2 linked regions of the Homo sapiens genome follow. The protein of the gene in region 1 purifies or fractionates together with the protein of each later gene. This does not show direct contact. Each region holds a gene or a part of one and is shown on either strand. Other genes may lie near its edges. The genes, in order: CCDC34 and RABL2A.

Region 1 (15,683 bases):
TCCCAGTCTCAGGTATGTCTTTATTAGCAGCATGAAAACAGACTAATACAGTGTTCAATCAAAATTTGTTGAATAAATGATAGTGAGTAAAAATTACAATCTGTTAGATTGTCTGAATCTTAGTATTTTTTAATGGATGCTTACTCTCATTCTAAAACAGGGGCTATATATATATATATATATATATATACACACACACACACATTTATATATAAATATATGTATATATATGTATATGTAAATATATATGTATATATATTTTTATATATACACACACACATATTTCCAGGACAGTTTGTCAATATTAATATTTGCATAAATCTTTGCCATCAGTGAATTAAGAGAGGAGAAGTGAATAATGCTCATTAAACACTGTATGTAAGGGCACATCCAGGCAAATCTCTGGCTATATAATTCTTCCATAGAACAAAGGGTGGCAAACTAAGCACTGACAATCACATCTGATCTACCATCACCTGTATTTGTAAATGAAGTTTTATAGGAATGTGGCCACACTCATTTGTTTACATATTTATTGTTTATAGTTGCTTTTGCACTACGACAGCAAAGCTGAATGGCTGCAACGGAGACTGCATGACCCCAAAAGTTTAAAATATTCATTAACTGGCCCTTTATAGAAAAAAAAATATTGATCCTTGACACAGACTATAACTCAATATTTTTTCCTCCTTATTTAAATGATAATCTACCAACACAGCTAAATTCTAAATAACCAATGACATAGCCAGTCTTCTTTATCAAAGGTTTGGAAACAAATCTGGAAGGCATAAAAAGTATATGCAATACAAATGCCATACATATCACCCAGGCAAATAATTATGAGCCAAGAAAAGAAATTCTTCCCTTGAAAGCAGCTTATAGAATACATTAATATAAGCAATTCAATGAAGACTCAACCAACAAACATCAGTTATAGACAAGATATGTCCAGGGCTGTGCAGGAAAGACAGGTCTTAAAAATCAAAGCTCAGGATGGGCATGGTCGTTCATGCCTGTAATCCCAGCACTTTGCGGGGCCAAGGCAGGTGGATCACCTGAGGTCAGGAGTTCGAGACCAGGCTGGCCAACGTGGTGAAACCCCGTCTCTACTAAAAATACAAAAAATTAGTTGGGCGTGGTGGCATACGCCTGTAATCCCAACTACTTGGGAGGCTGAGGCAGGAGAATTGCTTGAACCCAGGAGGCGGAGGTTGCAGTTAGCCGAGATCGTGCCATTGAACTCCAGCCTGGGAGACAGAGCAAGACTCCGTCTCAAAAAAAAAAAAAAAAATCAAAGCTCAAGTAATTCCCCAAGTTGTATCAAAGTTGCTGTATTTCCTTCTTGCTGGGCAGCCAATAGCTGTGAAACAGAATCTTTTCATGCTGAGAACTCAATAGCCATTGGAACAATACTGGATTTTAACTACTTCAAACTGTCAGAAGATCTACAAATTGAAAAGGACCTTGGAGTACATCTTGCTTAATCTCCATGTGACTCATGACTGTCCTCCACAACTTTACCTATAAGAAATCAACCAGTTCTTACATTGTTTTTAATTATAGCAGCTGACATTTATTGAGTGCTAACTATGCCTGTTACCATTCTACATACTTTATTTGTACACACTCTCAATTCTTATAATCATGATGTGAGGTAGATACCATTATTATCCCATTTTACAAAGGAGGAAACTAAGGCACATGGAGGCTAATTTGCCTAAGGTCATAGAGACGGTGAGTGACAGATCACACAGACATCATACAGAAATCAAAATGGGAGAATGTTAAAACCAATTTTATGCCAATAAATTCAATATTTTAAATGAAATGTCAAAATTCCTTAAAATATGCCACTTCCCAAAATGAATTCGAGAAAAAGTAGTGTCTGAATAATCCTCTACTTATAAAAACAATTCAAAATTAAAAACTTTCCTACAAAAACTCCAGTCACTGAAAGCTTCACTAGTTGATTCCATTACAGTTAAAGATACTCCATATTTTAATAACATAAAATATTATTGTGGCATATCTTAATAGTATCAAACCTTAAAAAAATGATTTTAGAACACAGAGAAAAAGTAAACATATCAAAGCTCATTTTAAGAGTCCAGCATTATTCTGACATCAAAACCAGGCATGGAAATTACAAGGTGATATCAGAAACGTTCCATATGAGTGTGGCTGGGAAAAAAACATATATATGTTATAAACATATGTATATGTTATAAACACATGCATGCTGCATGTTATAAACACATGCATGCTGCATGTTACAAACATGTATGCTATATATTATAAACATGTGTGTTACATATATGCTATAACATGTTACTTGTGTTATACGCATTGTTACATGTTATAAACATGTGTACATTACATATATGCTATAAACCTGTGTTGTACATACGTGTAAATATATAAAATATATATTATATATCAGGAACAAGGCAAGATAACTGCCCTCATCAGCAAAAACATGAAATACTGAGAAATATATTTAACAAAATACTGCTATACATTGAAAACTAAAAAACACTGCTAAGAGAAATTAAAGAAGACATAAATAACTGGAAAGAAAAACCATGTTTATAGATTTAAAATTTGATATTATTAAGATAGGAATTTTCTCCAAAATGATCTATGTGTTTATATTTAGCAGAATCCCAATAGTGCCAAGCACTATTAGGACAGGCATTATTAGGGAAATTGATAAGATGATTCTAAACTGTATATGGAAAGATGCAGGGCAACTAAAACAAGTTTGAAAAAGAATTGAAGACCTGGAGGATTTACACTATCTGATTTCAAGAATAATAAAATTCAGAACTATAAAACTATACTAACAAGTTAGTGTGGTACTGCACAGGATATAAATCAATAGAATAGACTAGAATCCAGAAACAGACCTATAAATATGTGGTCAATTGATTTTAAACAAAGGTGCCAAAGGTAGTTTAATAGGGAAAAGATTATCTTGTCAATATTGTTAGGACAATTGGATATCCACATGCAAACAAATGAATCTTGACCGTTAATGCATACTATACATTAAAATTAAACTCAAATAGACATACAGGTAAAGCTAAAGCTATAAAGCTTCTGGAAGAAAACAGTGGAGAGTATTTTTACCCTCTTGTGGTGGGCAAACATTTTTTTTTAATTTTATTATTATTATATTTTAAGTTTTAGGGTACATGTGCACAACGTGCAGGTTTGTTACATATGTATACATGTGCCATGTTGGTGTGCTGCACCCATTAACTCTTCATTTAGCATTAGGTATATATCCTAATGCTATCCCTCACCACTCCACCCACCCCACAACAGGCCCCGGTGTGTGATGTTCCCCTTCCTGTGTCCATGTGTTCTCATTGTTCAGTTCCCACCTATGAGTGAGAACATGCGATGTTTGGTTTTTTGTCCTTGCGACAGTTTGCTGAGAATGATGGTTTCCAGCTTCATCCATGTCCCTACAAAGGACATGAACTCATCATTTTTTATGGCTGCATAGTATTCCATGGTGTATATGTGCCACATTTTCTTAATCCAGTCTATCATTGTTGGACATTTGGGTTGGTTCCAAGTCTTTGCTATTGTGAATAGTGCCGCAATAAACATACACATGCATGTGTCTTTATAGCAGCATGATTTATAATCCTTTGGGTATATACCCAGTAATGGGATGGCTGGGTCAAATGGTATTTCTGGTTCTAGATCCCTGAGGAATTGCCACACTGACTTCCACAATGGTTGAACTAGTTTACAGTCCCACCAACAGTGTAAAAGTGTTCCTATTTCTCCACATCCTCTCCAGCACCTGTTGTTTCCTGACTTTTTAATGATTGCCATTCTAACTGGTGTGAGATGGTATCTCATTGTGGTTTTGATTTGCATTTCTCTGATGGCCATTTCTTAAATAGAATACAAAAACTACCAACAATTAAAAAAACTGAAATATGGAAATTCATCAAAATTTAAAACTTCTCTTTAAAAAATACCATTAATCAGTGCTTCTTCTTGTTAGTGAAAAAAAAAATACCATTAAGAAAAATTAAATGGGGATTTCATGACCAGCCTGGCCAACATGGTGAAACCCCATCTCTACTAAAAATACAAAAATTAGCCAGGTGTGGTGGTATACTCCTATAATCCCAGCTCCTCAGGAGGCTGAGGCACGAGAATTGCTTGAGCCCGGGAGGCAGAGGTGCGGTGAGCCAAGATCATGCCACTGCACTCCAGCCTGGTCAACAGAGTGAGACTCTGACTCAAAAAAAAAGAGACAGAAGAGAGGGAAACAGGAGGGGAGGGAGGGGAGGGGAGGAAGGAAGGGAGGGAAGACAGAGGAAAGAAGGAAGGAAGGAAGGAAGGAAGGAAGGAAGGAAGGAAAAAAGGAAAAGTTAAATGGGAAGAAATATTTGCAATACATATATCTGAGAAGAGACTTATAGTCTGAATATACAAATTCTCATATCTTAATAATAAGCCATACAACCCCTTCAAAAATGGGCAAATGACTTAACACAACACAAAACAAGCCAACAACACAAAACAAGCCAACAACAAAAGAGATGTAGAAATGGTCAATATATGTTATGGACTGAATTGTATTCCTGCCCCTCTCCCAAATTCCTATGTTGAATCCCTAATCCTCAATGTGACTGTATTTGGAGATTGCATCTTTAAAGAGGTAATCAAGTTTAAATGAGGTCATAAGGGTAGGACCCTAATTCAATAGGACTGGTGTCCTTACAAGAAGAGGAAGAGACACCAGGGATATATGTGAACAGAGAAAAGCCCTGTGGGGACATAAAAAGACAGCCGTGGAGAGAGGCCACAGGAGAAACCAAACCTACAGATGCCTTTATCTTGATTTCCAGTCTCCAGAACTGTGAGTAAAGATATATTTCTGTTGTTTAAACCACCCAATTTGTGGTATTTTGTTATGGAAGCTCTAGAAGACTAATATAATAAGCTTATGAAAATACGCTAAACATCATCAGATCTCAGGGAAATGAAAATTAAAACAATGGCATACCACTCCACACTCACTAGAAGGACTTAAAATGAAAAAGATTGGCCATACCAAATCTGCCAAAGATGTGGAGCAACTGGAACTTTCTTATTATAATAGTAGTGGAGATGTAAAATGGTACATGTACTTTAGACAAATGTTTGGCAATTTCTTATAAAGTTAAACACATACTTACCATATAGCCCAGTAATTTAGTTCCTAGGCATTCACACAAGAGAAATGAAAACAAGTGTCCACAAAAAGACTTGTACATGAGTGGTCACAGAATTTTATTCATAATATCCCAAACTGAAAACAACTCAATTGTCCATCAACTAGTGAACAGATAAACAATTTCTATGAAATTGAATGAAACAGATAAACATATTCTATGAAATGTATTTCATAGAATACTATAGTCAGCAATAAAAAGGAATAATACATGAAATATCAGGATAAGTTTTAAAACAAAAGACCAACACAAAAGACTATATATTCTATCATTCCATTTATATGAAATTATAGAAAAGGCAACTCTAATCTACAAGTACAGAAAGCAGATTAATGGTTTCCTTGGAGCTGAGGCTGGCTGGGGGCAGGGAGTGGGGGTGAATGCAAAGGGGCAAAAGGAAACTCTCTGGGGTGATGGAAATGTTCTGTATCTTTAATGGTGATGGTTACATGGGTACCTAAATTTGCCAAAGTCATCAAACTTAAAATAGTTGTATTTTATTGTATGCAAACTACAGCTCAATAGAATTAATTCTGAAAAAAAATCAGACAGACTTCTGTAGGATTTAAACTAAAGAAGTGTGAACAGAATGCCTTTAGTTAGCAAAAGGAAGACACAACAGGCACTCAGAGCAGTCACTACTACCGAGAGAGGAACCAGCCACTAAGTGGCTTCAGATTTTCTGGCACGCTAGTTCTACACCACACAGAGCACAACAATAAATCTTCCTTTTTTAAAGACGCTGCACCGAGAGAACCTTTGTTTCATACAACTAAAGGAAACTAACATAACAATTGGCTACTTAAAGTTTCTGGATTTCTGTTTTGCTTTCTCCAATAGTGCCTCGCACACAGTAAAAGCTGAGTAAATATTTGTTGAAAGCATGAATAATGCAATGATAACAGTGTTATCCATCATATACCTTGTTGATCTGAATTAATGTCTTACATTAGAAAATCAGTTGTGTTTTGAGAACGAAAAACGATTTTATTTTTAAATAATTTTTAAAAACATTAAAAGTAAAGGACCTTTTACAAAATATGTGATAACACTGTAATAAACACATCCAGAAAATAAATTACCACGGCAACACAAATGTTAGGAGTACCAGATGAGATAGAACATTTATTTTAAAAGCACTTAAGAATTTACAGTCATATTATAAGAAACTAGCTTTGCTAATGAATGCATAAATTCTTTGTGTCTGATTTTTTGATAAAACACAGTGAATATGACTTAGAGAAAATAGCAGCCACAGATACAGCTAAAATGTGAATGAAGCTGGAGGCAGCTGAGGACCACACACCATGAAATGTAAACAGAGGAGAAAAAAGCTAGATGCCAGACAGGAAGAGAAGAACCAGGAGAGCAGTCTTTACAAATAGAGGTAAATGTAACTATGTCTGAAAGAAGAAATCTGATAGGTCTTAAAGAAAAAAAAAAAAAAAAAAGAATAATCAATTATTCCTTAACATGAACAAGAGTTCTGCAGAACAGGTAAATATAACGTCTCAGTTTTATTTTTAAATAATTCTCAACATTACGGAATTTTGCCTTCAATAACTAGTGATTTATGTCAGGGCAAGCCACTTCCCTCCAAAAGAAATAATTTTTTTTTTCTTCAAATAATTGGATTAGGTCTACTGCCACTAATTAAAACAGTGAATATATTGTCTCCCAGAAGTATCTTACATTCCTAGACAAACAACAACTAGGTTTGATTGGCATGGTAAAATTAGCTTAATGGAGTTAGAAGATAAGAAGGACTTTTAGAGGAAAGAGCAAACTATTCTGCATGTGTAAAATAATTTTGTTTTATAGTTACAAATTTCAAAAAGATATTACCCAAAGTTTTATAACAGTCACAGAGATTTATTTTGATTTTTGAATTTATTCACAAAGATCTCTTTCATGTTATATCATGGGATGAAGTAAACTTTTTTAAAAAAACAAAGTAATTGACTTCTAAACAAATATGGTTATAACACACATACATCTAACCAATTTCCTTCTTATAATACTTGGATGAAGAAGGTTATATCATCTTCAATTTACTGAAATTATTTACTTAGTACTCTTATTAATACCATTAGGCATTAGATTCAACAATAAAGATAAAAAGTTAGAATTAAAATTTAAAATATTGTCCTACAATTTAAACATTTTTCCACATTTGTAAAACTGGATTATAATAATAAAAGCAGTACCACTCTAAATATGTAAAAATCACAACAGAAGACAAATTGACCACAGAATAAGTATTTTTAAAATTTCGAATGTGTGTGATCCATAGAAGAATATATTAAAATTAAAAGGAAAAAATGCAGCCATTCAATGAACATCTTCACTCAATTAAACTATTTTTGGACATATATCATGCGCAGGTATTCATCTAGCTCCTGGAAAACTGAACAAAAGAGGCAAAAATCCCTGCCCTTATGTAGCTTACAATCCAGTATAAGAAGTAAACAACAAGTTGAAAGATATAATGGAAAGAGATCACAAACAGGGGAGTAGTAATTGTAAAGAAAAGGAGGAGATGATTAGGAACAACAGAAGAATTCTAATTAAGCCTTGATGACCGAGAAGACAGCTGAATGAAACAGAGAAATGGGAGGATGGATTTACGAAGGAGAAATGGGCAAAATGGGTTGTTTTAGATTTGCAGACTTGGAGGCACTTGCCATAAGGATCCAAAAGGTCAGGCCTAGAAATACAGACTTGGTGACTGCCTGCAGGCAAATATTAGTGCAAGCCACAGGAGGGAAAAAGGAGAAAAGTAGAGGGCAAAGGGCAGAAGATAGAGACTTGATAAATGTCCACCAGGATAGAAAAACAAAACAAGCCAAAGAAGAAAGACTCTAAGAGAAGTATTTTTTAAAACCTAGGTAATGAAGTATAATAGGAAGAAATATTTTGCAAAAGAGATGTCAATGTGTGTATCCATTTTCCCCTCCTTACTTGCTCATTCTTTTTCTGAACCCATTCCTTGTGCTTTTCTTCAGCAATTATCTTTCTTTTTTCACGTTCTTCCATTTCTTTTCTTTTTTCTAGTTGTTGATTTAATTCCTGTGGATTTTATTTAGACAAAAGGCAACATTTAATAGAAGTACCCAAATAACATACATTTTAAAAGTCTGAGGTTATTAACCAAATTAAACAAGAATATAGTTTCCTTTATGGAGCATATGCCACTAGTGGCAATAACTTACTTAAGTAACCAGTCTATGATGAAAAAAAGCATTGGTAAAAGTATAAGTCATTTTTTAGAAATGTGCAAATAATTGCTTGGCAGCAAAACACTAGTTTCCTAGACTAAACTTCAGCTAAATTACCCTCATTGAAATCAACTTTCCCACACATAAATTTTGGCATCACTCTAAGCTACTGGCAGAAGCTCAAGAGAATTGCAACTTTTTTTTTTAAACAGTTATAAGAAGCTTCTGGATTCCTGATGAAGATAAAGCATAGAAATTAAATAATCCCTATATTAAAAATTTAATTCAGTTACACAAAAGAAATACAAAGAAACCATTCAATTTTCCTTAGGGAAAAAAGAACCCAGAGTTTTCTTCACTGGTTTTATAGCTGCTGAAGTGTAAAACAAAATCACATTCATATCCCAGATTATTTAACTGCCTTGCTGTCACTCGAATCTACACGTTTGGGCATTTCCTCAGGAAAAAGAATGTGAAAGGTATGGCCAAATAAAACTACAAGTTGAATGCCACCACTCTGTCACTCATCAGTTAAATTACTGCATTGGTTTAGAATGCTGTTCAAACTAGACTTCACTAGGACTCCACAACCATAATTACTGGTTATTTTTCTTCTCCGTCTTTAGATACTAATAGTCAGATACCTTACGTATCTTCTGTTGGTCTCCACACTCCTCCATAGCCCTTTCTTTCCCAAAGACCTACCTACTTGGGCATGGGTGGTAGTGGGAAAGACAATTTTCCAACCCTCAGACTAATTCCAGTGTCTTAAATGAAGATAAAACTTGACACCAAGAACATCTCTTTTGCATTTTAAACAACTGGTCACAGGAAATCTGTCTTCCATAATCACTCATCCTAAAATTCTGCTGCATAGAAGATAGCCGCCCTCACTCAGGAAGTCTTCCAACTTTTAAACACTATACCCCCAAAAGCAAATATCCATCTTTAAGGATTTTTCATCACTTCAGCAGCTATTGTTCTTTGATGACTTACTCAGTATACTTTTATGGTACACCTACTATGGACCTAGCAATAACTGATATAAATCTGATATAAAGATGAAATCCCAGAAGTCTCTGATCTGATTTTCTATACACTAAAGAAATAAGTGCTACATTGCGAGTTATTGCATATCATAAAAGTTCAGAGAAGGGAAGGGAAGATGAGGAGAAACATCTTTCCTTCCCCCTAGCCTAGTCTACCAGGCTAGTCAGAAATGAGCACCATACAAGGAACAGTGAAAAGATGGCTTCGAAAGGAGAGAGATTGGGAGGTGGGAGGGGGTAGAAAATTTGAGCGTGGTACTAGGTAGATGGAGAAGGTCTTTTGAGACAGGCAAAGTAAAGTGAACTATATGAAACAAGAATACCCGGCAAAAGGGAAAATTCAGAGCTCTTAATGACAAAGGCTGAAGACTGCATTTGAAGGGATGAGAACTATTCTGAGGAAGACTGACGAAGAGTGTGCCATAGTATATGAGTTATAAGAAAAAGAAGGCCTGGGCCTCTGGGCCAGGCGCAGTGGCTCATGCCTGTAATCCCAGCACTTTGGGAAGCTGAAGCGGATGGATCACTTGAGGTCAAGGGTTCGAGACCAGCCTGGGCAAAATCGTAAAACCCTGTCTTTACTAAAAATACAAAAATTAGCCAGGTGTGGTGGCAGGCGCCTGTAATTCCAGCTACTGGGGAGGCTGAGGCCGGAGACTCGCCTGAACCTGGGAGGCAGAGGTTTCAGTGAGCTGAAATCATACCACTGTACTCCAGCCTGGGTGACAAAGTGAGACTCCATCTCAAAAAAAAAAAGGAAAAGGAAAAGGAAAAGAGGGTTTGGACTTAGGAAACAAAAGGGGGAAAAATTATACATATATATACATGTACACATACAAATACATGTGTATATATGTATGTTTATATGTGCATGTGTGTATATATACAAATATATAAATATGAAAGACATTAATTAATTGGCTAGATATAGACCTGACAACTACATATCAAAAATTTTCCAAAATAGTCCCAAATTTTATTTTCAAGAAAAGTAATTATTTAAATGTATAACTAAAGACATGATTGACTATATATTTATGTACCTTTTAAGATTCTTCATTTACCTAAACTAAAAAATCAGAAAAAAAGAAACCCTGTACTCCTATTTGATGGCTAACAAATTTTAGTTAATGTTGATTGAAGGGTTAAAGAAAAAGGGTCAAAATGTATCTAGAAAATGCTACCAATAACCCAAACAGTGTTCTAATCTTGGATGTCTGTTCAAGTAATTTGTCAAACCAGAATATACATCACATTTTGAGACACAACCCTCCCTTCCAAGTCTGGCCCTTCTTAGAATTTCCCACCCTGAATGACTCCATGTTTACCACAAAGGCCAGTCTCCTTCAGGACACAGCTGGAGTCTTCCTTCGAAAGGCCCCTACATGGTCTTCTGGTATACCACTGAATTTCAACAGGATTACAGATAGCTATTAATATTTTCCCGTGGAATACAACACTTGATTATGGAAAACCAAAATCCAAAGAAGATCTTAAACATGCATTTTTATTTTAATAGGTTTTGCCTACTTTCAAATAATTTTTTACCACTGAAGGTAATAATAATCAGAAAAACTGACAGTTTTGAGTTTCACCAACAGCTCTATATCCTGCCCTATTCGTTCGTTAAGGGCTCATTAAGGGCTAATGAATAAAATGGCCAAAGGCAAGATGGTTAAAAAAAAAAAGAAAAAAGAAGGCACCAGGACTACTCACAAACTAGGTAATTTTTATAATTTACAACTGATTATAATATTAAAGCAAATATTAAGAATTAGAATCAGCCAATGACCATAGAGAACCTGGAGCAGTTGGCTAAATAATTATTTATAATAATTAAAAAGTAAATAAAAATTAAATGACCTATAAAACCAATATACTAGTTTTTCATAATGCTTGATAATTGATTCAATATTTACCATATTTATCATCTCAACAAAAGTTACAAATGTATACCATTTTGTAAGTGGGTAATTTTTATGAATTAAAATAATTTTTTAACTTAGTCCCACAGAGATGTCTGAAACAAACCAAATGTCTGATGCTCAAATCAAATTTATGAGTGTGGATGATCTTTTTAATGATTAAATTATCCTACAAATGTTCTCTTAAATCTTAAAGGAAGAAAATACGAAAGCCAGAGTTCATTAAAAAATAAATACTAAGTCTGACTCACTTATTTCTAAAATACATCTTGATATTGTGGGAAAAGCATTTAAATGGAAGTCAAAGAATTAGGTGCCAGTCCCAGTTCTGCCATGGACGAAGCCTTGGCAAAATTACTTTTCTGCCTTTCATGCTTTTTAGTTTTAATAGGGATCTGAGATGACTATTCTTTATGGTTAAAAATTTGATATGGTTTATAAACAAATTAGGGATACAGTAAATACAGAAAAATAAGGAAAACATGAGATAAAAACAAAATAAAGGAAAAGGCAGTGAAAGAATGTGAATACCACAAGAGCTCAACATGAGCTTACAACAAGCTGAGTAGTTGGCCTATATGTTAGGATATCCCTGGCATAACTGATATGTAAGAGTCATGCTAAAACTGAATCACTTCAGAGTTGAGTAATAAAGTAGCCATAAGAAATGTCAAACTACTAAATATATAAAAAGGTTTTAATCTTTGAACCAAATTACAAATAATTATACCCTGCTACATGCTTATCATTGTGATAGGGTTTATATTTATTATTTTAATCTGTTCTCAAAACAAATCTTCATAGCAGTTATTATGATCTCCTTTCACATATAATAACTTTGAGTGCTTTGTACATATTAGTCCATATCCTGATGTTCATTTAGTCCTCATAACAACACTATGAAGCAAATATTATCCTCCCCCTTTCACTGATAAGGAAATTGAGACACAGAAAGGTTAAGGATTTGCCCAAAGTCCAAATTTTGAATGCAGGAAGTATGGCTCAAGAATTTATGGTTTTAAACCAGGCACCGTGGCTCACACCTGTAACCCCAGCACTTTGGGAGGTGTCACTTGAGCCCAGGAGTTGGAGGCCAGCCTGGGCAACATGGCAACCCCCCCACCCCCACCCCAACAAACAACAATAAAAACAAAAATTAGCCAGGCGTGGTAGCGTGTGCCTACAGTCCCAGCTACTCAGGAAGCTGAAGTGGAAGAGGAGGGGAGGTCAAAGCTGCAGTGAGCTGTGATCACGCCACTACACTCCAGCAAGGGTGACAGAGTGAGACCCTGTCTCAAAAAACGAAAACAAAACCCAGAATTTACACTTTTAACTACTCCACTATTGTCTCTCTAACATCTGGCTTATAGATGAAGAAACTGAGGCTCAGAGAAGTTAATTAACTTTTCTAATGTCACAGAATTAGAATGGCAAGGCTAAAATTTCAGCCTTGTTCTGTGTGACTACCAAGCCCGGGCTTTACTAACTTTCTGAAATTCAATTAACTTCTCTCTGTACACTGACTAAAAATGACTGGAAGTGACCCTCCTTTTCTTAATATAACAAGTAACTTCTTGTGAGACTGTAGATAAAGCCCAATACCAGAAATTGAATTTTGTTCTACCATTAACTCACAGGATCAGTATTTTCCGAATTGTAAGTTTAAAACCAATTTAATGAATTATGACCAGCCTTTTGAAAAAAGAATAGAATACCAGGTTTTGCACAAAATTAAGATGCTATTTCACATACATATGTATAAATACATATATATAGAGAGATATATGTAGGTATGTGTTTTTATAACATAAAAAAATAGAGTGCTCACTATGAACAAATATTCTTAAAAGCTACTAACTAAATAATGGACTTAGTCATTGAGGTAAGAGAAGTAAGTCTGGGAATTCAAAAATACACCCCAATTCTGAAAATAAATGAAAAAGCTTTAAGAAGACTATGAATAGTAATGATATAAATAACAATACAAATAAAAACAAAGCCAGGCATCTTTATACTTTGTTACATTTAATCCTCACAAAACCCCTGTGACACAGGTATTATTTTATTCCTCTTAAGCAGACGAGAAAATAGAAACATAAAAGTTTCAATAACTTGCTTACACCCAGCAAATAAAAAGAACCAGGGTTTTTATTATTCTTGCCTAACATCAACCGTAAGGTCTTTCTCAAGCCCTGTGTACTGTCAAGAGGAAATAAGTGCCACTCTCACAGCGCACTTTTCCAGGAATAAATTTGTAATCTAGAATACAAAGTATCATACAATAGGAAAACAGCAGAATGTATTAGTTTTCATAATCATTTGAATTATGCCAAGCCTCTGGGACATGTGACTGCTTGCCTGGTTAGAAACTTATCAAATAATAACTGGTTTCAAAACTAACAGAAAAGTTATTCTAAGGAAGATCATGAAGCTTTTGTTCCCAGGATTTTTTTTTTTTTTTTTTTTTTTTTTTTAGACAGAGTTTTGCTCTTGTTGGCCAGGCTGGAGTACAATGGTGTGATCTCAGCTCACCACAACCTCCGCCTCCTGGGTTCAAGTGGTTCTCCTGCCTCAGCCTCCTGAGTAGCTGGGATTACAGGCATGCACCACCACGCCCAGATAATTTTGTATTTTTAGTACAGATGGTCTCTCCATGTTGGTCAGGCTGGTCTCAAACTCCCAACCTCAGGTGATCCACCTGCCTCGGCCTCCCAAAGTGCTGGCATTACAGGTGTGAGCCGCCATGCCCGGCCAATTCCCAGGATTTTTTTTTAGCAACAGTTACTAATAGACTGAAACATCCAACAAGAGTGAAACAGATAACTATATTTTAACAAATATGTAATACATTTTAAATATATTTAAATAATATTAGACAGCCATTTTTAAATGTTATAAAAATGTTTAATGATAGAGAAAAAGAGTTTTATCCTGTTTCATTAAAAAGAAGAAGTGTCCCTCATCATTCAAATCTATCTGGCTTCAGTGTTTGGATAGGAAGAATTCAGATAGTCTAGATAGTGGGTTTAGGGGATGCCAAATTATCCAAATCTATTTGGTTGCCATGTTCTGAAACAGTAAGAGTTCAAAAAATATGTGAATATTCTCATTAAAGAAGAGATGTGAAAATGCATCTACAACTATTTATTTTTTGAGTTCATATAGTAAAAGTTCAAAAGAGACTCACGCATGGAAATGTCCATAAGTGAGGGAGGCACAGAGAAACTGAAACACCCTGAAAGACTAGCAAGCAGTTTCCCACCGCCCAGCACATAGGGCACATGCTCACTGAGTGACACACGGTGGGGTGGGGTGGGGTTGGGGGTGGTGGGGTGGGGTGGGGTTGGGGGTGGTGGGGTGGGGTGGGGTTGGGGGTGGTGGGGGGGGGCAGGTAGATTCTTGCCTCTATTTTGTTTCAGTAAAGTTAAAAATTTTGCCGAGTGTATACAGTTGAATTTACTTTAGTTAAATGTACATATGTTGATGCTCCAGTGTATGTAGACATACAACTTATACATACATTTGTACGTATTTCAAAATAATTTACATAGAAGAAAATCTGGAAAGCTATGTCATAATACTAACAATGATTATCTTCAGACAGTGAAATTAGAAGAGATTTTAATTTTCTTAATTATGCTTAGCTGTATTTTCCAAATGCTCTAACAATGAACATATTTCTATTATTATAACTTATTAGTTATTAAATTTGATATAGTAAACTAACATAAATGCAAAGACTTTGTTTTCAGGAATAATAACATTAACATTTTAATTTACAACTGCAGCTCTACTTTGTGAGCTCACAGATTAAATAAAAAGAACACTGTCTAGTTTTACCTCTAGAGCTTTCAGTTGCAGCCGGTCACGTTCTTCTTTTTCTTTGCCAATAAACCACACCTCCCATGGTGTCAGGCGGCTTTCTGGTAAGCGCACCTGTTTCTGTTCTTCTTGGTTATTTTCTGATTCAACCTGAGTGCTACAAAAGAGAGGCTACTATAGTACTTGTACAAGAACCTCTTTTGCTTCCTAGTCCAAATCACTTAACTGTACAGTAAAAGCAAAACTTAATAGTGTATTTTCAATATTGTGATTTTTACAAATATACAGGAATTATACATAAGTATACATTTAAAAAATCATGAAAAGAAATTCTAATATTTGAATTAGTTTACCTATCAAACTGCCTTTGAATTCCTTCACCTTCTAAAACCACGTTATTTAAAACCCCATTGGGATAACCCACAC
Region 2 (15,310 bases), on another chromosome or scaffold:
AAGTCTGCCATGGCACCCCATAGCATTTAGACACCCACCTTTCTAGCCCTACCTCCCACTTAGTGATTGTCTGTAAATACGCACGGCCTTACCTTGGCACTGAGAGAGATGCATGGCTGAGTAGGTGTCATCTCATCTGTAAGAAGCAATAGCAGAGGGGATGCAGAAGGAGCTGCTCTGTTCTGCTCATTGTCACCTGCTCCTCTGCACACCTTCCTTCATGCTCTTCCCTCAGCCTCTCCCCAGCTCACACCCCTTTATTTGAAACTCTGCTCATTTTTCAGGCCCTGCTTCAATGCCACCACCTCCGTGCAGCCTCCTCTGATGTTTGTCATTAGCTTAGCTCTTCCGTGTGTGCTCCTGCACCACTGATCCCTTCCACAACATGGACTGTCTGTGATGCACGTGTGCAGGATGCTGGGAATGCCCAGGTGGAAAGACACACGTGCTGCCCCCAGGAACTGACTGACTGGTAGGCACAGTACAGATACCAGTGGTGAGGACAGTGAGGATTCTTCCCTTCTGACCCTTTGCAGATGGTAAAGGAAGGAACTCGTCACCTAATTCCCCCGACTGCCCGTTAAGAACAAAATCCCTTGAAAAATTCCAAAAGCTTTAACTCTGATAACTGTTAAGGTACTAAACAAGAGGATAATGGGGCAAGGAAAATGGGGGCAGTGTAGTGCAGAAGTCTGACCCTCAAGAGCAGAGGAGCTTGGTCCTAGCCAGTTTGGTTTCAGGCCTACAGTGGCATTTGGTATTTTGAGCTCACCTCTCTTTTTCTCTTGGAGTGACTGCTTCCTGCATCTGCTGCATCTCCGTGGGCTCCCCTCAGACCCTCTTCTGAAGGCCTGGGGTGTCTCTCCTGCCACCATGCCTGTGTCTGCAGGTGCCTGCCACCAGCCCCAGTCTGCTGCACGGGCCCTGGCAAGTAGAAAGCACTTGCCTTCTGACCACACGGGGAGCTGAGGGTCAGAGACGGAACCAGGGCTCGACCCTCCACCTTGAAACCTTGAGATGGGGATGCTCCTCATTCTAGCCAGTTCCTCCTCAGCTCTCAAAACAAGGAACAGATGCTCAGGAAACCAGATCTGGACAAAAGTCATCTGAGCCTGGTGTGAGGCAGATTCCAGAAGTTTAGTTACAGACATCCTTTATAAGGAGACTTCATCGGGAATTCAAGACAACCTGGTGATTCATTGAAATTTGCCTGTGAAAGAGAATCTACATAGACTTCCTGCCACCTCTTGAGATGTGACAGTTGCTGACCCTCCCGCCACCACACAGGGCGAGCCCCTAGCCCTGAGCTTGAACCATGTTGCTTGCACAAATAGCTGGGTGATTTAGAAGTGAGGTCAGCTGTGCCAGCAGTTACAGGGTGGTGGTTGTCTGTAACTTTAATCCACTGACTGTTGTACTAGGGCAGTTTGGGCTAGACACTTTGGAGGAGCTCCTGTGAAGGGCATGAAGGCTCACTGTAGCAGCAGCTCAGTTGTCTTTCAGAGTTCTGCCCTTAGAGCTGGTTTGCAGTGCTCATCCTTCTTGCTGATATTTTAAAATAGGTAGAAACAGGCTGGGCGCGGTGACTCATGCCTTTAATCCCAGTACTTTGGGAGGCCTAGGTGGGCAGATCACCTGAGGTCAGGAGTTCGAGACCAGCCTGACCAACATGTTGAAACCCCGTCTCTACTAGAAATACAAAAATTAGCCAGGCGTGGTGGCGCGCACCTGTAATCCAGCTACTCAGGAGGCTGAGACAGGAGAATCGTTTGAAGACAGGAGAATCGTTTGAACCCAGGAGGTGGAGGTTGCAGTGGCAGTGAGCCAAGATACCGCCACTGCACTCTAGCCTGGGCAACAGAGCAAGACTCCATCTCAAAATAAATAAATAAATAAAAATAAAATAGGTAAAAACAAATTATAAAGTAATACAATTATGAACTGCAAATAATAAAACATAAAAATTACTTTAAAAAAATTTAAAGAGGCCGGGCACAGTGGCTTATGCCTGTAATCCCAGAAATTTGGGAGGCCGAGGCAGGAGGATCACTTGAGCCCGGGAGTCCAAGACCAGCCTCGTTAATATAATGAGAGCTTATCATCTCTACAAAAAATAAACAAAATTAGCCAGGCATGGTGGCATGTGCCTGTAGTTCCAGCTACTCAGGAGGCTGAGGTAGGAGGATCACTGGAGCCCAGGGGGTGGAGGAGCAGTAAGCCAAGATTCTGCCACTGCACTCCAGCCTGGCTGACAGAGTAAGACCCTATCTCAAAAAACAAAAAGCAGAAAGAACAAAGAAGTAAACAAAAGCTTAAAAGTAAATCAGCCAGGTGCAGTAGCTCATGCCTGTAATCCCAGTACTTTGGGAGGCCTAGGCAGGCAGATTACTGCAGGTCAAGAGTTTGAGACCAGCCTGGCCAACATGATGAAACCCTGTCTCTACTAAAACTACAAAAATTAGCCAGGCATGGTGGTGCGCACCTGTAATCCCAGCTACTCCGGAGGCTGAGACAAGAGAATCGCTTGAACCTAGGAAGTGGAGGTTGCAGTGGCAGTGAGCCAAGATAGCGCCACTGCACTCCAGCCTGGGCAACAGAGCAAGACTCCATATATGGAGATCCCTTGAGATCAAGAGTTCGAGACCAGCCTGGCCAACACGGCAAAACCCTGTCTCTACTAAAAATAAAAAAATTAGCCAGGCATGGTGGCGCACACCTGTAGTCCCAGCTACTGAGGAGGCTGAGACAAGAGAATCACTTGAACACAGAAGGCAAAGGTTGCAGTGAGCTGAGATTATGCCACCACACTCCAGCCTGGGTAACAGAGTGAGACTCCGTCTAAAAAAAAAAAAAAATCGGGCAGTTGTGATGGCTAACACCTGTAACCCCAGCACCTTTAGAGGCCCAGGTGGGAGGATCCCTTCAGGCCAAGAGTTTGAGATGAGCCTGGGTAACATAGGGAGAGCCTGCCTCTACAAAAAAAAAAATAATAAAAAAATAAAAATTAATGCGTGCGTGCTACTTGGGAGGCTGAGGTAGGAGGATTCCTTGAGCCCAGGAGTTTTGAGGTTACAGTGAGCTGTGATTGAGCCACTGCATTCTAGCCTGGGTGACAGTGAAACCCTGTCTCTAAAAAGTAAATAAATAAAAGTAAATAGTAACTAAAGTAAAACTCTAGAAACATTTACAGTTACTACAGAGGAACTTTAAAACAGTTTAAGCAATAAATACAAGAGGACTAAAAAACACAAAAGTTTTTACAATTTCTAACAGACTGCATCAATTGGCAAATTGATTCCATTTATGATTGTTAAAATAGGTGAATAAGATTAGATGACAAGATAACAAAAAAGGAATACGTTATTTATTTGTTTATTTCAGACAGAGTTTTGCTCTTGTTGCCCAGGCTGGAGTGCAATGGCATGATCTGGGCTCACTGCAACCTCTGTCTCCCTAGTTCAAGCAATTCTCCTGCCTCAGCCTCCCAAGTAGCTGAGATTACCGGCATGCGCCACCACGCCCAGCTAATTTTTTGCATTTTTAGTAGAGACGGAATTTCACCATGTTGGCCAGGCTGGTCTCAAACTCCTGACCTCAGGTGATTGACCCGCCTCAACCTCCCAAAGTGCTGGGATTACAGGTGTGAGCCACTGCACTGGGCCAAGAATAAGATTTTTAAAAACATTTTCGCATCTGGAGGCTCCAGGGGGCTTCCCTGAGAAACGGCAGCCTCTGCGGTCAGAGAGGCTGCAATTCAGAGCGTTCCCACAAACAGCACCATGTGCTCATGCTTACCTGCTTGGGTGTGTGAGTCACCTGGAGATGGGGTGCAGAAACATTGACATACCTGAGCTATCTTTCTTCCTCTGCCCTTTGCAGGTGTTTGATATACAGAGGAAAGTCACCTATAGGAACCTGAGCACCTGGTATACAGAGCTTCGGGAGTTCAGGCCAGAGATCCCATGCATCGTGGTGGCCAATAAAATTGATGGTGGGGCCATCCCTGCACCTGGGTGTTAGCAATTCACTGGGGACCTGCCCTCATACATTTCCTCCTCCATTCCCCGGGCAGGCAACCTTCAGTGATTGGTCCTCCCTCCCACGATAAGATACAACCCTTGGTTGGTTGCTTGCATTCTTCCCACCTTATAAAGAAGCCAGCTAAGCCGACCTGCCCTCTTTCCAAGACACAGATCCCTATTAACTGAGCTCTTTCTAGGACATGTTTCCCAATCATCCCTGCCTATCCCACTTTCTGGAATGAAGGCCTCCAGTGGCCCCCCCTCCAAACCTTCTTCCCTTCCCTTGACAGACCAATGTCCTACCTTCTCTCTACAGCAGACATAAACGTGACCCAAAAAAGCTTCAATTTTGCCAAGAAGTTCTCCCTGCCCCTGTATTTCGTCTCGGCTGCTGATGGTACCAATGTTGTGAAGGTGTGGTTGACTGCAGAGGTAGCTAGCAAGGTCAGGGCGCTAGGTGGTAAAGGGAAGCTGTGAAGAGAAGGGCTTACTGCAGGTGTGATGGAGAGAACTGGGACAGTGCATGGGCCTGGGTGGCAGGGAGGGGAGGAGCTGATGGGCCTGGACTTGATGAGGCAGAAGTCCATTGACCATACATAGGTCAGGGTGACGGGGAGAGGCAAATGGAGGGGTAAGGTTGCTGATTTTAGGAATGGAGTATTGTGTAGTCTCACAGTGGGGCCAGTGGGGTGGACTGGGCAGAGTCCAAGGCACTCTCATCCACCATCTCTACCTCACCCCCAGCTCTTCAATGATGCAATTCGATTAGCTGTGTCTTACAAACAGAACTCCCAGGACTTCATGGATGAGATTTTTCAGGAGCTCGAGGTAGGTCAGGTCCACATTTCGGGTGGGATGGAAGAAACGGCTCCTCTTCAGGGATAGGGACTACAACCCAGTAGAGTGACTCTTGCCTAAGTTTGCCCCACTAAATGTATCAGAGCTGCGGTTGAGCAAATGCAGGGCCAGGCCTCACCTGCGACCTTGTTCACAGAACTTCAGCTTGGAGCAGGAAGAGGAGGACGTGCCAGACCAGGAACAGAGCAGCAGCATCGAGACCCCATCAGAGGAGGTGGCCTCTCCCCACAGCTGAGGGGCTGGGGCTAGGGGTGGGTGGAGCCCTTTTAAAATACCCTTCCCTTCAACAACTCTCCAGCTCTGAATGGAGAAACTCTCTAGGCCATCCCCTCTTCTACCTCCTGCAACCCACCCATCCTATTAGCCTCCCACATTCAAGGCCCGTGATACAGGGATGAGGTCAGCACCAGCAAACTCTGGACTGGTGGAAGAATTCCCCACCAGATCTCCTTGAAGCAGAATTAGGGATCAGCATCATTAACACCTTCCCCACCCCCTCCCCCCAGGCAGACAGTGAAGAGAATCAGAAAACATGATTATGTGTCACTTTAATACAGGAAATTTAGGTGTTTTTTGGTGTTTTTGTTTTTGTTTTCTTTCCAAAGCTCACCTCGGGGACAATTCCTTGGGCTTCTCCTGAGGTAATGATTACCCCCCCACCCACAGCTGAGTCTGTGAGGCCCCATCCTTTCCCTACGTTTTCTCCCATCTTTTTTCCTCTTCAATCTCCCAGTCATCTGGTTTGTTTGTTTCTTTGTTCGTCCTGAGACGGAGTCTCGCTCTGTCGCCAGGCTGGAGTGCAGTGGCGCAGTCTCGGCTCGCTGCAACCTCTGACTCCCTGGTTCAAACGATTCTCCTGCCTCAGCCTCCCGAGTGGCTGGCATCACCACGCCCAGCTAATTTTTGTATTTTTAGTAGAGACGGGGTTTCACCATGTTGCCCAGGATGGTCTCGATCTCCTCACCTCGTGATCCGCCCGCCTCGGCCTCCCAAAGTGCTGGGATTACAGGCATGAGCCACCGCGCCCGGCCCCAATCATCTGTTTTTAAACAATCGTTTTTGAGCAGATAGCTATTCATTCCAGATTTCCGTGTACCCACTCTGTTTCAGGAGCTCTTCTAGGTAAAGCTGAGATCACAGGAACAGCAGGTGACAGGCCTAGCTATAGTTAGGAATACACAAGCGGTAAAATCGAGTCCTTACAGCCATACCACAAGGTACGTCCATTTGGACTACAAGAAGAGCTTCCTTTAAAGTTCCTATTTCAGCATAAAGAGGCTGTCCTTTTTTTTTAGGAATAGTTTGGACCTTGTGCCTCCTGTGGGAGGCTGAGGACTGCAAGAGGAGAGCTAGCAGATATGCCTGTTCACCCCTCTCTGGTACTTGTGGCTTGCTAGTATGTTTTTATGATAATCTCGGGCATTGTTTGCATTGTGTTTATTAATAGGGTTTTGTTTTTATTGTTTCCTTTTTTACAGTAAAGGCTGAATGACATAAACATTGAGTAAATGTATGTGCTTTGTGGCTCTGAAGTGTGTACTGAGCAAAAAGACAAAAGAATCTGCAAATCATCACCCTTATCAATGAAGGGTAGCTGCCTTGACCTGTTGCAGGGTAGCCCATGTTTACTCTCAATTCACTATATTGGAGGCCATTTCAGTGGAATTTAGTGTTTTCAAAAGAATTCAATTACCTATTAATTTGGGAGCTCAAGAACAAGTACATTTCCCCTTGAAATCAGCAATACTTAGATGTTCAACGTAAGATGTTTGACCTGACCAGGGGTTCCCAGGAACGTATACCCTGATGAGGTAGAACTTAAAAAAATGTAGTTACTGTAAATAACTACTAAGTACTTTAAAAAAAATACAACAGCCTTACTGAGATAGAATTTGCAGACTATAAAGTTCACCATCGTGTTGGTTTTATGGGACTATTCTGTATCAGGTTCCTTAGAAGCTGACCCTGAGAAGGCCGTGGTTCAAATGACTTAATTAGGGTCATTCTCAGAAGAGTGAGGGGGGCAGGAGACAAGAAGCTCAGCAAGGTTGTGGTCTCAGCTGGAGGCCGGCTTCACCACCCCACCCCGTCCCAGGGAAGCTCTGGAGGGCAAATTGCCCTCCAGAGTTAGTCCTACCTCAAGACCAGGGGCCTTTTGTGCCCTTCAGCCAAGGGTGTGAGGTGGAAGGGGGCCTTCTGTTTCAGTAAGGTCAGTTCTCTGGGGAAAAGGGTAACTGTGCGCTTCCAACTCAAAGCAATTGGAGGATGAATGTTTAGGCAGGGTGCCAGCAACATCCACAAGCCACCCATGTGTACATTGCTCAGATCCACCTGCTTCTTAAAGTTCATTCCATCCAGGTAGAGCTGCTCCATGTTTCTAACTGGTCACCAGTCCTGGGGGAATGTACAAGAGAAGGGTCAATGGGAAAGGACAAACCATAGCCCCTGCTATTGTAGTTGGACCCCATGCAGAGACTGATACTTGTCACCTCTCATTCTCTGGCTAGCACTTTTGCTGGTCTAGGTTGTTTGCCTGGGGGGTTGATCCTGCTCCTCTTGCCTAATGGGGTATGAGCCCCTGCTTACTATGCCTTTATGAGGCGGTGGTTGTTAACACTTACATAGTTATATCTAAACATGCAAGTACCAAGAGACAGCATGAATCATCTGAGTACCAAATACAGTGCTCCTTCCTATTATTATCTGGCAACATCCTTTCTTCCTAATGACGATTACAGGCAATCACCTCTTTCCAGAATGCTAACTCTGCTTGCCAGTTACAAGCGCATGGACTGTCTAGGAAGCAGCCATAGCTTTGTGTTTAGTGAAACTCTTACTGTATCACTTGGTGGAAATGCCTCCCCCACTCCCCACACTGCCACTCACAGAGTCCAAGACTTCAGCTCACAGAGCCTAAAGCTGTAGACACAAACACAGATTCCCCAAGTGTGTCACTGAGAGTGCTAGCGAGCGGGGCGCTCCTATGTCCACTCCTTGGTTACTAGACATGTTGGGGACATAAAACCATATAATGAATATTAAGTTGTATATCACATCATGAAGGACCCCATCCTTACAGGGTATCATATCCGAGATCGACATCTCTGCTATCCACAAAGATAGGAAAGACTCAGAAGTGGAGTGACATCAGGAAAATGGCAGAGTAGACAGCTCCAAACTCCTGTCCCTCTACAGAAACATGGAGAAAAAGCAGCAGAAACTTTACCAGAACTCTGGAAAACAGTAAAAGACTTATATCAATCAGGAAAGCCCTGAAATGAGGAAAGGGCAACTTCAAAGTGACAGAAAAGTGGTGTGGCATTTTCACTTGCCCTTGCCCCACCCCTTCATCAGCTTGATGGTGATCTTGAAGATAGTAGTCCATTTTCCCAATTTAGGACCCAGGTCCCAGGTTCCAGAGGGAGCAAGGCAGACCTTATTCACAAATGACTTTGTTTGTCTATTCTAACCGGTCAGAAACGATCTGAGAGACTAAAATGAGGCATTTGTCTGTTTTGCCCAAGTCTGAATCCACTCAAGGTAGAAAAGTGGCAGGCATTGCTTAAAAACATTCTGAGATGACCAAAAAACCCACAGCTCCCTGGGACAAAAAGTTGTGGTTCAGACATACAATATATTACATAAAGCCTGGGAGGAAAATCTGGGAGAGTTTCTTTGGGAAATCAGGACATTCAAAAAATACTTGTGTTTATTGGGGATTTCAAATGTCATGCACATACCCAGGGCAGGTCACGCATTCAGGAAAGATCTGAGAAGACCCTAAGCTTTTTCCTTTGGAAGATCTCTAGGTCCAGGGTTATCAAGAAGTGAAGGCTAAGACAGAGTTGTTAATATCCTGGTTAGGTGTTGAAGGAATGCCCCAGCACAAAGCCAATCTGCAAAGATTGAAAGAGATGCTTAAAAAAATTTTTTTTTTCAACCACGGATGAATACATAAAGAAAATGTGGCATATACGTACAATGGAACATCATTCAGCCTTTTTAAAAAAGGAAATCCTGGCCTGGCGCAGTGGCTCACGCCTGTAATCCCAGCACTTTGGGAGGCCGAGGCCAGCGGATCACAAGGTCAGGAGATCGAGACCATCCTGGCTACGGTGAAACCCCATCTCTACTAAAAATACAAAAAAAAAAAAAAAAAAAAACTAGCCAGGCATGGTGGCGGGCACCTGTAGTCCCAGCTACTTGGGAGGCTGAGGCAGGAGAATGGCGTGAACCCAGAAGGCAGAGCTTGCAGTGAGCCTAGATCACGCCACTGCACTCCAGCCTGGGCAACAGAGCGAGACTCAGTCTCAAAATAAAATAAAATAAAATAAAATAAAAAGGAAATCCTTCCATTTGCAGCAAATATACTAAGTTAAAGAAGCCGGACACAGTAGGACAGATACTACATGATCTCACTTACATAAGGAATCTAAAATATTCAAACTGAGAAGCAGAGAGTAGAATGGTGGTTGCCAAGGGCTAGGGGGAGGAGGAAACAAGCAGGCATTGCTCATTGGGTGCAAAGCTTCAGCTATGCCGGAGGGATGAGTCCTAGAGACCTCCTGTACAGCATAGTGACTATAGTTAACAACACTGTATTACATACTTAAAGATTTACTGGAAATAGATCTTATGTTAAGTGTCCTTATCACAAAACATGAGAATTAGAAATGAAGAGAGAGGGAGCAAACTTTTTGAAGTGATGAATATGTTTATGGCATTCATTGTGGTGACGTTTTTATGGGTATATACTTATTTCAAACTCATCAAGTGGTATACCTTAAATATGTATATCGATAAAATGGTTTTTAAAAATACATGAAGCAAATGCACATTTCTCCAAAGAAAATATACAAATGGCCGATAAGTACATGAAAAGATGCTCAACATCATTAGTCATGAGAGAAATGCAAATCAAAACCAGAATGAGATGCCACTTACTGGTAATGAAAAAGATAATAGCAAGTGTTAATGAGGCTGTGGAGAAATCGGAACCCTTATACACTGCTGAGGAGGAAGTAAAATAGTGCAGGCACTTTGGAAAACAGTTTGGCAGTCCTGGAATGGTGAAATATCGAGTTAACCATATGATCCTGCAAATCTACTCCTAGGTATACACTCAAGAGAAATGAGAACATGTGCTCACAGAAAAGCTTGTATATGAGTGGTTATAGCAGCACTATCCATAATAACCAAAAAGCTGGAAATAATCCAAATATCCATAAAATGTGGTATATCCACACGATGAAATATTACTCAAAAATACAAAGAAATGAAGTGCTAATATGTGCTACAACATGGATGAAACTGAAAAAAAAGTATGTTGAATGAAAGACGCCACGTATAAAGCACCGCAGGTTGTGCGATTTCATTAATATGAAATGTCCAGAACAGGCAAATCTACAGAGACAGAAAGATTACTGAACAGAAAGATTACAGACAAAAATAACAGATAGTGGTTGTTTAGGGTGGGGGGGTTGCCGGTGAAGTTGGGAAGGAATTTGGTGGGGGCCAGGAAGCTAAGGGTACAGATTTTCAAGTAACGAGAATACTTTAAAATTAATTGTGGGTGGGTGCAGTGGCTCACGCCTGTAATCTCAGCACTTCGGGAGGCCAAGGAGGGCAGATCACTTGAGGCCAGGAATTCAAGACCAGCATGGCCGACATGGCAAAACCCCGTCTTTACTAAAAACATTAAAATTAGCTGGGTGTGGCGGCACATGACTGTAGTCCCAGTTACTAGGGAGGCTGAGATGAAAGGATCGCTTAAGCCCAAGAGTTCAAGGCTGCAGTGACCTATGATTGCACCACTACACTCCAGCTGGGATGACAGAATGAGACCCTGCCTCTAAATAAAATAAATACATAAATAAATAAGAGAAGTCCAGCAGCATATTAAAAGGATAATACACATGACTAAAGTGGAGTTTATCCCAGGAGTGCAATGTCAGTTAAACATTTAAAAATTATTTAATGGGGCCGGGCGCGGTGGCTCACGCCTGTAATCCCAGCACTTTGGGAGGCCGAGGCGGGCGGATCACGAGGTCAGGAGATCGAGACCATCCTGGCTAACACAGTGAAACCCTATCTCTACTAAAAAATACAAAAAAAATTAGCCGGGCATGGTGGCGGCCACCTGTAGTCCCAGCTACTCGGGAGGCTGAGACAGGAGAATGGCATGAACCCGGGAGGCGGAGCTTGCAGTGAGCTGAGATCGCACCACTGCACTCCAGCTCGGGCGACAGAGTGAGACTCCGTCTCAAAAAAAAAAAAAAATTAATGGGCCTGGGCACGGTGGCTCACGCCTGTAATCCCAGCACTTTGGGAAGTCAAGGTGGGCGGATCCCGAGGTCAGGAGTTCGAGACCAGCCTGGCCAACATGGTGAAACCCCGTCTCTACTAAAAATACAAAAAATTAGCCAGGCGTGGTCGTGGGCGCCTATAGTCCCAGCTACTCGGGAGGCTGAAGCAGGAGAATCGCTTGAACCCACGAGGGGGAGGTTGCAGTGAGCTGAGATCACACGCCACTGCACTCTAGCCTGAGCCACAGTGCAAGATTCTGTCTCAAAAAAAAAAAAAGTATTGGAAGCAAGAAAAGGATAAACTAAATCTTGCGGTACTGGATAAGAGGTGAAAGTATTATCGTGAACTCTCATTTAGCTTTATATATATATAAAATGGATAGATACAAAAACAATAATAGATACATGTGTGTACATGGGTTAGTATACAACATATATTACCTAACTGTCTCATCCAGCTTTGAGGGCTTAGAAGTAATACATCTCAGTATTGACAAGCACACCCAGTGTCCAGATCTTAGTTTCTAAAAAAACACTTTCCAGTGAAAAAACCAGATTACTTTAGAGAAATGGTGGATTCCAGGGTTGAAGCAGGGGAAATGCAAAATGAGCCTGTAGCACCTATTATATCAGAAAGGAAGGATGTGCTCAACAAATTAAATGAAGCCGGGAATGAAGCCACGGGTGCAATGGCTCACACCTGTAATCCCAGCACTTTGGAAGGCAGAGGTAGGAGGATTGCTTGAGGCCGGGAGTTCAAGACCACACCAGCCTGGGCTGTAACATAGAAAGAACCTATCTCCATAAAATAAAAATAAATTAGTAATAATTTTTTAATTTAAAAAATGATGAAGGCATGTCAAAGGGACTCAAGAGCCAATATGAAAGGGCTCCCAATGGGCAAAGCTGGAAAAATGTGAGCAACAAATTATATAATGTCATATTGGTTTATAGTCCACTGTATAAAATAAATATACATTAGGGATCTACACTAATATAATGAATAGATGAATAATAAGAGACAAATCTTTCATACAGAAAAATTAAAAATACTATGTGTAACTCCTGCCATCTGCAGGGGGTGGAGCCAACACCCCCAACCACCATCACTACAGAGAATGGGCTGGACTGAGTGGCTCACTTCTAAAGAAGCACTTATAGAAAGCGAACAGTGATGAAACCCAGAAAACACTGCCCTGACCAACGGATCAAGGTTAATGTCATCACTGTTGTCATATGTATGTTGTAGACTCCTGATAGGATGTGATGAGGATAATTTGTCTCTATGAGACTTTTTCCCAAAATTCATAATCCCAATATAATCATGAGAAAAATATTACACAAATTCAAATGGAGGGATATTCTACAAAATACCTAACTATCCCTCAAATTTGTCAAGGTCATATAAGAGCAAAGAAAGACTGAGAAATAGTCTCAAACTAGAGGATTAAATCTGTAACAATCTGTGACTACTATAAATCTAAAGTTGTTCTAAAATAGTTTATTTAATACACCAGATTAACTAAGTAAAAACAGAAAAATTACATGATCATCTCAATAAATGTAGGAAAAGCTGGCAAAATTCAACACTCATTACTGTGTAAAAAATAAAAATATAAACCTCTTAGCAAAAATATAAACCTCTATATTTTTCTTAGAGAATAAAATATCCTCAGCCTAATAAATGGTATTTGTGAAAAACCCACAGTTAACATCACACTTAATGGCAACAGACTGAAGCTTTTCATGCTTAAGCTCAGGAACAAGAATGTCCACTCTCACCACTTCCATTCAGCATTGTACTGTGAAATAAGGCAAGAAAAACAAGGGCTTTCAGATAGAAAAACATAAATAAGGTTGGGCGTGGAGGCTCACACCTGTAACCCCAGCACTTTGGGAGGCCGAGTTGGGTGGTTCACCCGAGGTCAGGAGTTCAAGACCAGCCTGGCCAACATGGTGAAACCCAATCTCTACTAAAAATACAAAAATTAGCCAGGCGTTCTGGCACATGCCTGTAGTCCCAACTACTCGTGAGACTGAGGTAGGAGAATCACTTGAACCTGGGAGGCAGAAGTTGCAGTGAGCCAAGATTGTGCCACTGCACGCCAGCCTGGAAGACAGAGCGAGACTCCATCTCAAAAATAAAGAAAGAAATAACACTGTCTTTATTCACAGAAGACTTGATTGTCTATGTTGAAATCCAGTGGCAGCTACAGAGCACCAGAATTAATAAATGAACTTGGCATGGTTTCAAGATACATGGGAACCACACAAAAATCAATTGTATTTCTGTATACTGGCAGTCAACAATTGAATATCAGAATACGAAATATTGAGAAATAATTCTGACAAAATATGTGAAAAACCTGCACACTCAAAATTACAAAACATTGCTGAGAGAAATTGAAGCAGCCCTAAATAAATGAATAGATACCCTGAGCTCATGACTCAGAGGACACAGTACCCTAAATAAATGAATAGATACCCTGAGCTCATGACTCAGAGGACACAGTACCCTAAATAAATGAATAGATACCCTGAGCTCATGACTCAGAGGACACAGTACCCTAAATAAATGAATAGATACACTGAGCTCATGACTCAGAGGACGCAGTACCCTAAATAAATGGATACACTGAGCTCATGACTCAGAGGACGCAGTACCCTAAATAAATGAATAGATACACTGAGCTCATGGCACAGAGGACACAGTACCCTAAATAAATGAATGGATACCCTGAGCTCATGACTCAGAGGACACAGTACCCTAAATAAATGAATAGATACCCTGAGCTCATGACTCAGAGGACGCAGTACTCTAAATAAATGAATAGATACCCTGAGCTCATGACTCAGAGGACACAGTACCCTAAATAAATGAATAGATACCCTGAGCTCATGACTCAGAGGACGCAGTACCCTAAATAAATGAATAGATACCCTGAGCTCATGACTCAGAGGACGCAGTACCCTAAATAAATGAATAGATACCCTGAGCTCATGACTCAGAGGACGCAGTACCCTAAATAAATGAATAGATACACTGAGCTCATGACTCAGAGGACGCAGTACCCTAAATAAATGAATAGATACCCTGAGCTCATGACTCAGAGGACGCAGTACCCTAAATAAATGAATAGATACCCTGAGCTCATGACTCAGAGGACGCAGTACCCTAAATAAATGAATAGATACACTGAGCTCATGACTCAGAGGACGCAGTACCCTAAATAAATGAATAGACACACTGAGCTCATGACTCAGAGGACACAGTACCCTAAATAAATGGATACACTGAGCTCATGACTCAGAGGACACAGTACCCTAAATAAATGAATAGATACCCTGAGCTCATGACTCAGAGGACACAGTACCCTAAATAAATGAATAGATACCCTGAGCTCATGACTCAGAGGACGCAGTACCCTAAATAAACGAATAGATAGCCTGAGCTCATGACTCAGAGGACGCAGTACCCTAAATAAATGAATAGATACCCTGAGCTCATGACTCAGAGGACGCAGTACCCTAAATAAATGAATACATACCCTGAGCTCATGACTCAGAGGACGCAGTACCCTAAATAAATGAATAGATACCCTGAGCTCATGACTCAGAGGACGCAGTACCCTAAATAAATGAATACATACCCTGAGCTCATGACTCAGAGGACGCAGTACCCTAAATAAATGAATAGATACCCTGAGCTCATGACTCAGAGGACGCAGTACCCTAAATAAATGAATAGATACCCTGAGCTCATGACTCAGAGGACGCAGTACCCTAAATAAATGAATAGATACACTGAGCTCATGACTCAGAGGACGCAGTACCCTAAATAAATGAATAGATACCCTGAGCTCATGACTCAGAGGACGTAGTACCCTAAATAAATGAATAGACACACTGAGCTCATGACTCAGAGGACACAGTAACCTAAATAAATGGATACACTGAGCTCATGACTCAGAGGACACAGTACCCTAAATAAATGAATAGATACCCTGAGCTCATGACTCAGAGGACACAGTACCCTAAATAAATGAATGGATACCCTGAGCTCATGACTCAGAGGACACAGTACCCTAAATAAACGAATAGATACACTGAGCTCATGATTCAGAG

Evidence for each region.
Region 2: the proteins of CCDC34 (region 1) and RABL2A purify together in Homo sapiens (affinity purification with mass spectrometry; 3 studies listed by BioGRID and IntAct, with this or other methods). This does not show direct contact.

Annotation. Positions count from the first base shown.
Region 1 is NC_000011.10:27,342,128-27,357,810, forward strand, and holds part of CCDC34 (coiled-coil domain-containing protein 34), read right to left. Parts: intron 15,415-15,683; coding exon 15,276-15,414; intron 8,313-15,275; coding exon 8,205-8,312; coding exon of another isoform or gene 8,121-8,204; exon of another isoform or gene 6,742-8,120; intron 1-6,741. UniProt on the Homo sapiens protein: Involved in spermatogenesis. Has a probable role in anterograde intraflagellar transport which is essential for the formation of sperm flagella.
Region 2 is NC_000002.12:113,637,015-113,652,324, forward strand, and holds the end of RABL2A (rab-like protein 2A), read left to right. Parts: intron 1-284; exon of another isoform or gene 285-3,822; coding exon of another isoform or gene 3,823-3,879; coding exon 3,880-3,991; coding exon of another isoform or gene 3,992-4,020; exon of another isoform or gene 4,021-4,338; coding exon 4,339-4,436; coding exon of another isoform or gene 4,437-4,466; intron 4,467-4,766; coding exon 4,767-4,850; intron 4,851-5,016; coding exon 5,017-5,115; 3' UTR 5,116-6,175; coding exon of another isoform or gene 6,176-6,181; 3' UTR 6,182-6,378; downstream 6,379-15,310. UniProt on the Homo sapiens protein: Plays an essential role in male fertility, sperm intra-flagellar transport, and tail assembly.